2 linked regions of the Homo sapiens genome follow. The protein of the gene in region 2 interacts with the protein of the main gene of each other region in a biochemical or structural test. Each region holds a gene or a part of one and is shown on either strand. Other genes may lie near its edges.

What was found.
Region 1: the proteins of ACTR1A (region 2) and SPTBN2 form a complex in vitro, tested with the Homo sapiens proteins (2 studies listed by BioGRID).

Annotation. Positions count from the first base shown.
Region 1 is NC_000011.10:66,726,030-66,733,444, forward strand, and holds the start of SPTBN2 (spectrin beta chain, non-erythrocytic 2), read right to left. Parts: upstream 3,188-7,415; 5' UTR 2,712-3,187; intron 2,247-2,711; exon of another isoform or gene 2,132-2,246; intron 2,115-2,131; exon of another isoform or gene 1,957-2,114; intron 1,404-1,956; exon of another isoform or gene 1,275-1,403; intron 1,257-1,274; exon of another isoform or gene 1-1,256. UniProt on the Homo sapiens protein: Probably plays an important role in neuronal membrane skeleton.
Region 2 is NC_000010.11:102,485,518-102,492,865, reverse strand, and holds part of ACTR1A (alpha-centractin), read left to right. Parts: intron 1-2,252; coding exon 2,253-2,317; intron 2,318-3,727; coding exon 3,728-3,803; intron 3,804-4,590; coding exon 4,591-4,716; intron 4,717-7,132; coding exon 7,133-7,257; intron 7,258-7,348. UniProt on the Homo sapiens protein: Part of the ACTR1A/ACTB filament around which the dynactin complex is built. The dynactin multiprotein complex activates the molecular motor dynein for ultra-processive transport along microtubules.

The sequences.
Region 1 (7,415 bases), on a different chromosome or scaffold from region 2:
TGTCTCTCTGCCCGCTCCACATTTAACTCATTGAGGACAAGGGCTGTCTTACTCGTTTTGGTGTTTTTCCAGACTCAGTACAACAGATATTCAATAAAGAGATATTGAATGACTTGACTATAATTCATTTTTTTTGGCCATGGAATTAATGTCTTTCTTAGGACTAGAGAGAAGCTCAAGGAAAGAATGAACACGGGATTGGAGAAGACCTGCTCCTGGGCTGGAATACTTTCAGGGTTGAGCTCAACAGCTCAGGTCTGGGGATTCTCAAACTTCCATGAATCACAACAACCTGGAGGACTGTTAAATCACAGGTCACCCCCCCATCCCCCAGTTTACGATTCAGTACTTCTGGGGTGGTACCTGGGAATGTGCATTTCTAACCTGTTCCCGGGTGACACTGAAGCTAATGGTCTGGGGACCACACTTTGAGGGCCACCCTTGTCCAAAGATGAGAAGCAGCTGGAATTGGTTAGAGGAGCCATGAGTGTTGAGAAGACACAAAGTTTCAGGGGTGAGTGTGACCCAGGGTTAGCTTCTAGGTCTGCTCAGGCCCTACCCCACACTAAACTCAAATATCACTTCCCCTCAGGAGCTCAGGCGATGGGAGAGGAAGATGAAGATGGAGTAGGTACCACAGGTAATGAAAGAAACAGCACAGCGAACCGCAGATATGCGGGAGGAGAACGGCAGAGCTAGAGAAGTCACGGGAAGGCAGAGTTGAACAAATGACAGTGAGATGAATAATAGATTAGAAGAAATGGGGACTTTGGCAAAGTTCAAATCTTATTTGCTTCTAAGTATAAATGGGTGGACTGGCAGAGAGATAAAACGAAAAAGAAGTCACAAATCAGCTCAGGGCCTCCAGGAAGGCAAGAGAAAGATGGGCCCAGGGCAGAAGGAAGGAACAGCAAAACCCCGACCCACCTCTCAGACTGTGTTCCTGATCAATTCCCTCGGAGGAAGTTAGGAACTGGGCTGAAGAGGGGGACTGAAATTTTATTTTCTCTTCTAGAATCCTCCAGTTATGGCAGATTTATTCAAATATTCAGATTCTTCACTCCCTTGCTATCTCCCTTCCCCAACCCGGGGTCACATCAATTTCTCTAAGGGAAGAATGTAAACTCCATCCTATCTTCTCCTCGGCCAATCCTTTGCCTTTCTGAATAAGCCAAGAGGTTGCCCCACACCTCAAGCTAAGACACATATTTGGAACTCACTCTGCCCCTCTTCACCTTCAAGGAAAACTGGTTTGTTGCTACCTCTGCCCATACCTGAAACCCCCGGGCTCTCCAGCGTTGGAACTGTGGCTGCTCCGAGAGGGGGAGGGCAGACGACATGTAGCAGGTTAAGACCGGGGCAAACCTGCACCTCACACAAGCATGCAATGTCCTGGGGTCAATGGGGTAAAGTTCCAAGCGAGTGGAAGGTAAATCACGACTGTGGCACCGGAGCCGGAACACCCCCGCGAGCAGGCCTTGCTGGGTAGTTCCGTGCGGGGCGGACCGCACAGCCCTATCAGCTTCCTGGCCACAGAAACGCCGCACGCGGCCGCTTCCCCGCCGCCCGAAGCGTCTGCTTTCTCCCCGGGCCAGTTCCGGCCACCACAGCCAACCGCGTGCCCCTCTCCCACACACTGTGGGGGAACAGAAGGGAGCGCGTGGAGCCAGCTGCCAAAGAGGCGAGGAGGAGCCCACGCGGCTCCGGGGAGGAGGGAGCCCGGCTCCCGCAGTCCGCCGGGCAGAGGCGGCCGAGCGCGCCCCCAGCACCTGGCCCGGCGCCGGCCCGTCCGCCCCGCAGCCCCGGCGACGCGAGGGGCCGGCGCTGTCAGACCCGCTCCCAGCCTCGCCGCGAACGTGTCCGTCAGCCCTAACTGTTCCAGACTCTTCTCCCGGCTCCAGAGAGGCCCGAGTCCCCCCCCCTCGGCCTTGGCCCCCACCGCCCTCATCCCGGTACCTGTGTGGCTGGCACGGGACCCTCTCCGTCCCGTCCCCGCCTGCTCCCGCCCCGGCTCACCCCGGCCGCCGGGACCCGACCCCGACCCCGACCCCGACCCCGCCGACCGCACGCGGCCGGACAAAGCGCGCCGCCCCGCGGGCCGGGACAAAGCGGGCGGGGCGCCGGCACCTACCTCGGCGCGGAGCCGCGGCCGGGCGGGCGGGGGCGCGGCGGGCGGGGGCGCACCGGTAGTTGCCGCGCCTGCAGCCCGGCCGCGACGGGCGGTTGCAGGCAGCGGCCGGGCGCACGGCGGGCGGCGGGCGGGCGCTGTCACGGGGCGCAGGCGGCGCGGGGGGCGCGCGGGGCGGGCGGCGGCGGGGCGCGTGGCGGCGGCGCGCGGGCGCGAGCGGCGGGACTGCGGCGCCGCGGAAGGAGGACAATAGCCTCCCCCTGCCGCAGGCCGCCGGCTCCCGCGGGAGGCCCGGGACCATCTGGAGCCGGCGGCCCCGCGGGGCTCTGGGCGGGGCCCGAGTCGCCCCTTCCCCGCCCAGCGCCATGGCAACCGAGGCCCCTCTCGGTGCTCCCCGCCGCTCCCCGCCCGGGGTAGTTGACCTGCCTCGGGGCGAACGCGGCAGCAGCTCCGAGGCCGGCTGCCGACCCCCAGCCACCTTCCGTGCGGGGTCCCCCCAAAACCCCGCCTTCCCGTCCTCGCTGGTCCCTGGGTCCCCCACCACAGCTTACAGGTCTTGATCTCCCCGGTTCGGACACCTCACCTTTGTCCCTATTCTGCTTTTCCTCCAAAATCCGTATCCCCGAGACACGCGATCCTTCCTCTAATGACACTGCCGACGAGGTTTCCCGAGATCCAGCCTCCGTTCCCCTTTCCTCTCCGGGCACCTCCAGTCCGTCTCCGCTAAGCATTCCTCTCACCCGTCCCCTCGCTCTCGCGTCCTCCTTCAGGCAGCTGGGCCGGCTCTCCCTCCCAGAACATCTCCATGGCACAGTGAAGATTCGTCTTCTACAGATCAGATGCTCCAAACAGGCATCTCAGCGCTTCTCAGCTCCTCTCATTTATCAACCAGGAGAATTCCGGCCTAGTCACCGTCTTGAGGGGGGTGGGGGTGGGGGCAGACATTTCTAGGCCTGACACGGCTGGGTTTCTCCTTGGTTTGTTAGCGTCTGAGTGGTCTAAGGTCCAAGGTCCTTAACCAAGGTGAACTGCTGCCTGCTTAGGAGAGGAAGGAATTATGCCCAAATCATGACAAACTCACAGAGTGCCAGGTGGGTGCTAAAAGCGCATCATCTCATGTGACACTCCCACCCCCACTCCAGCTCTGAGAAGTAGGTGCTGTTCTTCCAGATTAGAGAACTCAGCTCAGAGATGAGCCAGTGGTAACAGGGTGAGCTTTGTACAGAGCCGTTAGGTTATGTACTGCCCCTGAAGATGAGGGCCCGTTTCTATCCAGGGAATGCCTGAAATGGTCAAGTAAGGGCACTCAAAGAATGGGCTTTGAGTGAATTATTGGATTTAAGGTTTTATAATAGATTTATGGGTAATTTAGGATTTTGCTCCTTTCTGAAAAGGTATGCATACTGAAACAAATATGTGCAATTGAAGTACTTTCCAGATATGGTTTTGACAACCCTAACTAGTGGTGTCATCTACCTCGCCTTGGTTTTCCTAGTCTATAAAATGGGTTGGGAGGAGGGTTGGGGAGTTCCATTGAAAGATTACTTTGAAGTTCTCTCCTAGCTCTGATATCTGTGCTTCTACCACGAAACTGGAACTGGCTCTCTGGTGTGTACCTCACAGTTAGCTGCATTTGAGGCTATTTATTATTATTATTATTTTGAGACGGAGTCGTGCTCTGTCACCCAGGCTGGAGTACAGTGGCTTGATCTCGGCTCACTGCAACCTCCTCTTCCCGGGTTCAAGCAATTTTCCTGCCTCAGCCTCCCGAGTAGCTGGGATTACAGGTGCATGCCACCATGCCCGACTAATTTTTGTATCTTTAGTAGAGTCAGAGTTTTGCCATGTTGGCCAGGCTGTTCTTGAACTCCTGACCTCAGGTGATCTGCCTGCCTCAGCCTCCCAAAGTGCTGGGATTACAGACGTGAGCTGCCGTGCCAGGCCTGAGGCTATTTATTATTTTTAATAGCCACTCTTTCAGGCAATGGCATTAAAGAAACAAGGGCATAAACTGCAACTCTTCCCAGAGGTAGGATTATGTGTTGGTTGGTTCGGGGGAAGGAGGCACCAACCTGTGCATGACGGTCATCAGGGACACTTGGTCAGGGACATTAAAGCTGATGGGATGAGAATCAGCTGCCCATGGCCAGGCGCAGTGGCTCACCCTTGTAATCCCAGCACTTTGGGAGGCCGAGGCAGGTGGATCGCGAGGTCAGGAGTTCAAGACCAGCCTGGCCAACATGGTGAAACCCCTTCTCTACTAAAAATACACAAATTAGCCAGGCGTGGTGGTGGGCATGAAATCCCAGCTACTCAGGAGGCTGAGGCAGGAGAATCGCTTGAACCCGGGAGGCAGAGGTTGCAGTGAGCTGAGATTGTGCCACTGCACTTCAGCCTGGGCAACAAGAACGAGACTCCATCTCCAAAAAAAAAAAAAAAAATTAGAGAATCAGCTGCCCTGCCAAAGGAACTGGAACCACCAAGCTGCTGCTGCTGTACTGGTTACGGGAACTAAGGGTCTCAATGACAGCCTATAATATCGTGACCCAATTAGAAGTCAAGGGTATTAAGTCTTATGATTAGCAAAATAATATCTTTTATAATTTCCTATTTTCAGCATTTCATAATCCTTCAAGAAGCCTTGTAAGATAAACATTCTCATTCTTATTCTATTGATGAACAGACTGATGTTCAGACACCTAAGTGAATGTACAAGTTCACAGAATTAGTTCATGGTAGAAACTCCAGGTCTTCTGAATCCTAATATGTTCTTTCCTCTCTGCTAGACAGGGAGTATAGCAGAATGGTTAAAAGCATTGATTTTGGAGTCAGACTCCTTGGGTTTAAAACATAGTTCTGCCACCCACTGACTATGTGACCTTGGGCAAGTTACCTCCCTAGGATTCAGTTTCCTTACATGTAAAATGGCACCATAATGTGGGGAACATCAAATGAATTATTGCAGGTAAATGAATTATATGCAGCACATAGTAAGCACTTAATCAGTATCAGCCGTTATGATTTTACCGTATTATTTCCCATACTGTTTCCCGATTTGGAGAGGAAGCACATTGAATAAAGAGAACACTGAGATCACCTATCTCAGCTCTGTGACTGGGTTGCTTTGGAAACTTGTTATTTTGCTCTGTAGTGAACCAGTACAGTCAATGATGAAGAAAATATCTGGTTCCTTCTTATTTGAGTTGCAAAAGCGAATGGAATGATATCCACCAAGTTTGTTGAGCTTCTCAGTGAATCCACATTTGCTGCTTACATTACCAAGATTCATGGAAAGGTTTTGGCTCTGCCCACCAAACATACATACATAGCCGAATTCTCAGTTCTTGTTTCAATACCAGGGAAGAGGTGTCCCTCTTTTCACCTAAGATGGATTCTTCTGGCTCCTATGCTAAGTCTCATCCCCTTCTGCAGCCTCACGGCCCTCACTGCTGTCTCTCAGCTGGTTCCTTCCCATCAGCATTTAAACATGCTCAAGCATTTGCCAGCTTAAAAAATAATCAAGAAGCCCCGACTTCCCTCCATGCATTCCCCTTGCTCTTTATGTTCACAGTCTTCCTGAGTCATTTGCACTCATTGGCTTCACTTCCTCGCCCCTGCTCAATCAAATATTTATGCAAAAACTATATGGCTAATTATATACCAGGCACTGTGCTGGGATCTGGGGATATAATGATGAGTAAAATGGATACTGTCTGTTTTCTCTTGGAAGAGCCTGTGGTGGGATTGACAGACATTAATAAAATAACCCATCAGATATATAACCACAAAGTATAATGAGTGTTATGAATGAAAAGTTCAGGATGTTAAGAGAGAACTGAACAGAGTCATAACCTCAGATCACCTGAGCTGAGATCTGAAATATGAGAAGCATTAACCAGACAGAGTGGGGAATAATAATAGCTGTTACTAACATTAACGTGGAACTGTATTTCTAATACTTTACACATAACATTTCATTTAATCCTTTATAACAACTCCAAGAGGTAAGTATTAACCCCATTTCACAGATGAGGAAATGGAGACATTGAGAGATTAAGTACCTTACTCAGGGTCATCAAACCAGGCAAGGGTAGAGCTGGGATTTTAACCCAATCTGACCCTTGAACCCATGTTCTTAGCCACAGAGCATATGGCTAACAGGCCTGATGTTGCAGGACACATGGTGTACATAGGAAATGGAGAAAAGAGGCCGGGTGCAGTGGCTCACGACTTTGTAATCCCAGCACTTTGGGAGGCCAAAGTAAGCGGATCACAAGGTCAGGAGATTGAGACCATCCTGGCTAACACAGTGAAACCCCTTTTCTACTAAAAATACAAAAAAATTAGCTGGGCGTGGTGGCATGCGCCTGTAATCCCAGCTACTCGGGAGGCTGAGGCAGGAGAATTGCTTGAACCCGGGAGGCAGAGGTTGCAGTGAGCTGAGATCATTCCACTACACTCCAGCCTGGGCAACAGAGCAAGACTCTGTCTCTCAAAAAAAAAAAAAAAAAAAAATGGAGAAAAGAGGCTGCGCGCGGTGGCTCACGCCTGTAATCCCAGCACTTTGGGAGGCTGAGGCAGGTGGATCACCTGAGGTCAGGAGTTCGAGACTAGCCTGGCCAACATGGTGAAACCTCATCTCTACTAAAAATACAAGAATTAGCCGGGCGTGGTGGCAAGTGCCTGTAATCCCAGCTACTCGGGAGGCTGAGGCAGGACAATCTCTTGAGCCCAGGAGACGGAGGCTACAGTGAGCTGAGATTGTGCCACTGCACTCCAGCCTGGGGGACAGAGTGAGACTCTTTTTCAAAAAACCAACCAACCAAAAAAAAAAAAAAAAACAATACAAAAGAAATGGAGAAAAGACCAGGGTGCAGGGAAAACAGAGGGGAAGAGGGAATGTGTAGAGAATTGCGACTGGGGAGATAGGCAAGGGCTAGATCATGCAGAGCTTTTTATGTCATTATTTAAAGAATTTTGATTTTCACCTTTAGAGCCCTGAGAGACTATTGAAAGGTTGAAATAAGGAAGTGATAGGATCAACTTTGTATTTTAAAAAGGTCACTGTAGCTGCTATGGGGGGAATAGGTTACTCCAGTTGCTATGGAGGGGTGCAAAGATGTGTGAGAAACCAGTTAGGAGGCTACCACTGTGGGTAGGGTGACAGAGAAGATGGTAGCTTGAACTCAGTTGCTGGCAGTGGAGATGGAGTGCACAGGTTGAAAGAATTAACCAGATGTGGTGATGGGATAGATACAGGGGTGGTGGTGAGGAAAAAGGGTTAGTC
Region 2 (7,348 bases):
CACCTGGCTAATTTTTGTATTTGTAGTAAAGACAGTGTTTTGCCATGTTGGCCAGGCTGGCCTTGAACTCCCTGGCCTCATGTGATCTGCCCCGCTTCGGCCTCCCACAGTGCTGGGATTACAGGCGTGAGCCACCACACCTGGCTTCCTTCAACCACTTGCTTCCTCCACCAACCTCTGTCTTGCCAAAGGCAAGCACCAGATGGCCAGTCTCACTCCCCCTCTTCCTGCAGAAGAGCAGGAATAAGAGAGTCAAGGAGGGAAGCAGGCATGTTGCTGGGAAGCCTTTGGTGCAGATAACCTTGGCTACTTAGAGTCTCCAGGTGTGTTCAGTGCTTGTAGAATGAGGTCAGTAAATACCACACTCCACCCCAGGAGAGTGGTCAACAGGCAGCAGGAAAAGGCTTGCCCCAGCTACGGGTGCAGCTGCAAACCATGTTGGGTTAGAAAGGTGAGGGTATCAGGTGTGGTGGTAGAAGAGTTAAGAAGGAAGAAGAGGCCAGGCGCGGTGGTTCATGCCTGTAATCCCAGCACTTTGGGAGGCCGAGGCAGGTGGATCACAAGGTCAGGAGTTCGAGACCAGCCTGACCAACACGGTGAACCCTCATCTCCACTAAAAATACAAAAATTAGCCAGGCATGGTGGTGCGCGCCTGTAATCCCAGCTATTCAGGAGGCTGAGGCAGGAGAATCGCTTGAACCCAGGAGGTGGAGGTTGCAGTGAGCTGAGATTGTGCCACCACACTCCAGCCTGGGTGACAGACCGAGATTCTGTCTCAAAAAAAAAAAAAAAAAAAGGCCGGGCACGGTGGGCTCACGCCTATAATCCCAGCACTTTGGGAGGCCAAGGCGGGCGGATCACGAGGTCAGGAGATCGAGATCATCCTGGCTAACACGGTGAAACCCTGTCTCTACTAAAAAAAAAAAAAAAAAATTAGCCAGGCATGCTGGTGGGCACCTGTAGTCCCAGCTACTCAGGAGGCTGAGGCAGGAGAATGGCATGAACCTGGGAGGCAGAGCTTGCAGTGAGCCCAGATTGCACCACTGCACTCCAGCCTGGGCGACAGAGCGAGACTCCATCTCAAAAAAAAGGAAGAGGACAGGGTGTATCTACAAGCAATACTAAGCCTTGACATCTGTCCTGCACAGGGTTGGTCTCTGTGTCCAGAGTCACTGTTTACATTGATTGGGCCCTGGGTGGTACCTGAGATGCTGGGAGAACTCAGATTCTTTTCTGGACACCTCACTCGACATACCAAGTGTTGGAGCAGCAGGACTGTGGTTCTCTTCTATTCTCAGAGTAGGCTTTAGTCTTTGCTTCTCTTTACCATCAGGAGACCAAGGAGTAAAAGGAAAGCATAGTTAAAAAGAAAACAACAACAAAAATCTCCCAAAGCATCGTGCTCTGCCCTTGCAATAAGAACCAGACAGCACGTGTTCCATGGGAGTCCATTTCAAGCATGACAGTGCTCATGGCGGTGTCTGTCACAGAGGCCCTGGAAGCTGGGAGAGTTCAGGCCTGAGCTGGGAAAGTAGGTTAAAAGCACCCCAGGGTGGCGTAACAAGGAGTCATGTGCTTTTCCTACCTTATGTTCCTGAACTTGGCTGCTTTGATGCTTCTAGGTACTTTCTTCTTTCCCCAGGTTTTCTGTCTTTTTCTTCCCTTTATTACTAGTATTTTTAATTCCCAAAGCAAAACATGTTCAATGTAGAAAAGTCAGAGACTACAGAAAAATCACACATACGGTTGTGTATACAGTGAGAATCCTCCTCACCATCCTATTTCCACTTCCCTTCTTTTGGTGTGCATTTACCTTTTTCTAGGTTCAAATAAATGTATATATTATATACAAATATTAGTTTTGTTTTTTTTTTCCTGTGAGACAGAGTCTGTCACCCAGGCTGGAGTGCAGTGGCACAATCTTGGCTCACTGCAACCTCTGCCTCCCAGATTCAAGTGATTCTCCCACCTCAGCCTCCCAAGTAGCTGGAACTACAGGTGCCTGCCAACATGCCCAGCTAATTGTTGCATTTTTACTAGAGACAGGCTTTCACCATGGTGGCTAGGCTGGTCTCAAACTCCTGACCTCAAGTGATCCGCCTGCCTCTGCCTCCCAAAGTGTTGGGATTACAAGTGTGAGCCACTGCGCCCGGCCGCTTTCTTTTCTTAAATAAAAATGGTACCATATAATGTATTTTTCCTTTTGTATTTGTGATAGTTCTGACTCCTCATTCTCTCTCCTCTTTCCTCAGGGATCCGGTGTGATTAAAGCTGGTTTTGCTGGTGATCAGATCCCCAAATACTGCTTTCCAAACTAGTAAGTCATTCTGTAGCTTAGACGTTTTGGAGGCTCATCAGCTTTGTTACAGGCCCAGCCCTATAAGGGACAGGAGCCGAGTTTGGAGTCAACAAAGGAAAACAGTTGTCTACATGGTACAATTTGAGAGGCACAGATAAGAGGCCTCTTTTTAAAAATCCAATTTTATCTGATGCTAAAAAATTTTATCATTGGTAACTTATTGCTTTGGAGGATTGCCTCTTGGTGGAGCCCTCCTTTTAAAATTCTCCTATCACCCAGGCTGGGGATTAACATTTAACCCATCTACCATCTTTTTTTTTTTTTTTTTTTTTTTGAGACGGAGTCTCGCTGTGTTGCCCAGGCTGGAGTGCAGTGGTGTGATCTTGGCTTACTGCAAGCTCTGCATCCCGGGTTCACACCATTCTGCCTCAGCCTCCCGAGTAGCTGGGACTACAGGCGCCTGCCACCGTGCCTGGCTAATTTTTTTGTATTTTTAGTAGAGATGGGATTTCACCGTATTAGCCAGGATGGTCTTGATCTCCTGACCTCATGGTCTGCCTGCCTCGGCCTCCCAAAGTGCTGGGATTACAGCCCTTCTACCATCTTAATGAGGAGTTTCTCAGAACTTTCCTCCTAAGACAGAGAGACTGCAGGCAGGAGAAGAGCACAGAGGCTTACAGGAAGGGCTTAAAGGGGGAGGAAAGGAAGAGGCTATCTGTCCGATCTATAGCATCACAGTTTTTTTTGTTTTCTGAGATGGAGTCTCATTCTGTAGCCCAGGCTGGAGTGCAGTGGCGCAATCTCGGCTCACTGCAACTCCTGCCTTGCAGGTTCAAGCGATTCTCGTGCCTCAGCCTCCCAAGTAGCTGGGATTATAGGCATGTGCCATCACGCCCAGCTAATGTTTGTATTTTTAGTAGAGATGGGGTTTCACCATGTTGGCCAGGCTGGTCTCAAACTCTTGACCTCAAATGATCCACCTGCCTCAGCCTCCCAAAGTGCTGGGATTATAGGTGTGAGCCATCGAGCCCAGCCCAGCATCAGTTTTACTTAGAGGTCCTGGGAAGGGGACTAAGGACACTAAAATGTTTTGAGTTAATCACTCCTTTAGAAATTCTCATTTCCTCATCTTTCTTGGTCTGTTCATACACTGCAGAAAGAGAAGAACTAGAGGTATTAAATACTCTAAAAATTTGTTTTCATAATTTATAATAAATATAAAATATGAAATAATATATAAATAATACATGTTCATTTTAGAAATTGTGGAAAATACAGAAAAGTATAAAGAAGAAAATCAAAATCAACTGTGACTTCACTCCTTGAAGATAATCTCAGTAGAATTTGAGTGTGTATGTACATCTATACATCCTTCCTGTGTTCTGTCATGAAATGAAAAATGATGGTCCTCCTCACTGTCTTTTCTAGTGTGGGCCGACCCAAGCACGTTCGTGTCATGGCAGGAGCCCTTGAAGGCGACATCTTCATTGGCCCCAAAGCTGAGGTAATTCCCAGGCCTACAGAACAAGCCTTAAGCCAGCAGAGGACCTTCATTATTCACCACATGGAACATGTCCCAACATTTGGACATACCCATAAGTAAAAGGGGCAACTTTCTCTGAAAATCTCCTTTTTGATTCTCTCATCCTAGGCTTAGGTGGTTTATTTTTCCCAGGAACAGCCTGTGGTCTTGGAGAAGAAAATACCTGGGACCTCACTTTGGGACACACTGAGACCAGTCTAGGAAACAGGGCTGTTGTCTTCTGCATCCTGTCACTGCCTTGTCAGTGATCAAATTTACTGTGTTTATTATTTTTTTCACAAAAAATATTCAGTGGGGAGATCCTGGCTGGGGTACCCTAGGGATGAGTTAATTCACACAGCTTTGTCAGAGCCCTCATGCAGCCTCTTGTAAGCAGATAGCAGAATCGCTGTTGCCATCCTTGGCTTCAAGTGCTGAGGCCCAGAGGTGGGAGCCAGGAGATTGTGTCCTGGAACCAGGCAATGAGGAAGATGCCTCCTGCCACTTGCCCTAGAGGCACCTGAGGGGCCATGGAAATGCAGAAGCCCCTGCTTTGCCGGCTCCTCGGGAATGAGGGCAGTTTGCAGCAAACAGTATTTAGCCTTGGAGAATGAGTGCCCACCCTTAGCCCTGGGCAAGGACAGCAGGGTGGAAGCTCAGGAAGCTGAGGCTTCTTTGCAAGGGATTCAGCTTGCACTGCTTAGTCTTGGGAGAACAGGGTCCTGGGTGGAGCCTGACTGCAGTCGTAAGTCCTGTTCTCTTTTCCCAGGAGCACCGAGGGCTGCTTTCAATCCGCTATCCCATGGAGCATGGCATCGTCAAGGATTGGAACGACATGGAACGCATTTGGCAATATGTCTATTCTAAGGACCAGCTGCAGACTTTCTCAGAGGAGGTGAGGATCCTGTGTGTAGGGCACTCCTGTAGGGTATGCAAAGCTGTGTCAAACTCCTACCCTAGAGATGATGAGGAGGACGATGATCACTGCCAAGAGTGCTGGAGCCATTTGATTTTCAGGCATATTCAGATTTAATCTTAACACCATTCCTATGAGATATAGGTAGTATTATCTCATTTTACAAACAAGGGAACAAGTTCAGAAAAGCCAAGTCGTGGCCGGGCGCGGTGGCTCACACCTGTAATCCCAGCACTTTGGGAGGCCGAGGCGGGTGGATCACGAGGTCAGGAGATCGAGACCATCCTGGCTAACACGGTGAAACCCTGTCTCCACTAAAAATACAAAAAATTCTCCGGGCGTGGTGGCGGGCGCCTGTAGTCCCAGCTACTCCGGAGGCTGAGGCAGGAGAATGGCGTGAACCCGGGAGGCGGAGCTTGCAGTGAGCCGAGATTGCGCCACTGTGCTCCAGCCTGGGTGACAGAGTGAGACTCCGTCCCAAAAAAAAAAAAAAAAAAGAAAAGCCAAGTGGTATTTCCAAGGTCACCAAGTGAACAAAGGGTAGAGATGGAATTCAAACCTATGTCTTTTAGAATTCAAAGCCTGTGCTCATTAACTTCTTTCACCCAGACTGGAGTGCAATAGCTCACTGCAGCCTCGACCTCCTGGGCTCAAGTAATCCTCCCATCTCAGCCCCACCCCCCACCATGCCCGGCTAATTTTGTGTGTGTGTGTGTGGTGGGGTTTTGCTCTTGTTGGCCAGGCTGGAGTGCAATGGCGTGATCTAGGCTCACTGCAACCTCTGCCTCCCGGATTCAAATGATTCTCCTGCCTCAGCTTCCCAAGTAGCTGGGATTACAGCATGAGCCATGGCACCTGGCAAATTTTGTATTTTTTGTAGAGACAAGGTTTTGCCATGTTGCCCAGGCTGGTCTCGAACTCCTGGGTTCAGGCAATCTATCCGCCTCCACCTCTCAAAGTGCTGGGATTACAGGCGTGAGCCACCTTGTGCAGCCTGTGCTTATTAACTTGTAAGGAAGTAACTCTCCATTCAAAAATGTAAAGGGAGGCTGGTCACTGTGGGTCATGCCTGTAATCCCAGCACTTTGGGTGGATCTCTTGAGCTCAGGAGTTTGAGACCAAGTTGGGCAGCATGGCGAAACACCACCTCTACTAAAAATATGAAAAAAAAAAAAATAGCCGGGTACAGTGGTGCGTGCCTGTAGTCCCAGCTACTTGAAATGATGAGGTGGGAGGACTGCTTGAGCCTGGGGGCATCGAGGTTGCAGTAAGCCAAGATCGCACCACTGAACTCGCAGCCTGGTGACAGAGTGAGACCTTGTCTCAAAAAAAAAAAAAGAAAGAAAGAAAATGCAGAGAGGTGCAGACTAGGTGTATCAATTTCCAGGTGCAGGTGGGATGTTTTCAGTTTTGGGTTTTTTTTGTTTGCTTTTTTGAGATGGAGTTTCGCTCTTGTGGCCTAGGCTAGAGTGCAATGGCGCAATCTCGGCTCACCGCAACCTCTGCCTCCCAGGTTCAAGCGATTCTCCTGCCTGAGCCTTCCTGAGTAGCTGGGATTACAGGCATGCACCACCACCAAGCCCGGCTAATTTTGTATTTTTAGTAGAGACGGGGTTTCTCCATGTTGGTCAGGCTGGTCTCGAACTCCCGACCTCAGATGATCCGCACGCCTCAGCCTCCCAAGGTGCTGGGATTACAGGTGTGAGCCACCACGCCCGGCTGTTTTCAGACAGTTTTTTTAAAGCAGTGGTCCCCAACCTTTCTGGCACCAGGGACTAGTTTCTTGGAAGACAGTTTTTCCATGGGGGTGGGGGTTTGGGGTGGCCAGATAGTTTCAGGATGAAGCTGTTCCACCTCTGATCATCAGGCATTCAATTCTCATAAGGAGTGCCCAACCTAGATCCCTCACATGCGCAGTTCACAGTAGGGTTCACACTCCTATGAGAATCTAGTGCCTTGGATGATCTGATGGGAGGTGGAGCTCAGACAATAATGCTCGCTTACCTGCCATTCACCTCCTGCTGTGCAGCCTGGTTCCTAACAGGTCACAGACTAGAACTGGTCTGCGGCAGGAATTTAGAGTTTCACAAAATCTTCTTGACAGTTGGAGATACACAGTAGACACAGGGGCCTGTATAACAATCTTGGAGGACAAGGAGGGGAGTTGGGGGGCACAGCTGAGGACAGAATGAAATTTTAAAGTGGGCATTAACTTGAAAAGTTGAGAAAACTACTTGGGCAGGGATAGTTGACAGGCACAGCTTGCCTTTTTTTGGAGTGAGGCTGACTGAAGTCCCCGGGCTCTCAAACCAGCAAGGCAGGGTCTTCTCCCCTAAGACTAATGAAGATGGAAATCTGGCCTTGGCCTCATTGTCTCCCGGGCTCCTTTCACCAGCATCCTGTGCTCCTGACTGAGGCGCCTTTAAACCCACGAAAAAACCGGGAACGAGCTGCCGAAGTTTTCTTCGAGACCTTCAATGTGCCCGCTCTTTTCATCTCCATGCAAGCTGTACTCAGCCTGTGAGTAGCAGCTGGCTAGCCCGGCCCCTGCGGGGAAAGCAGTCCTTTGGCACAGCTGAGGCTGGCTCTCCTCTGGAATGGTTCAGAGTAA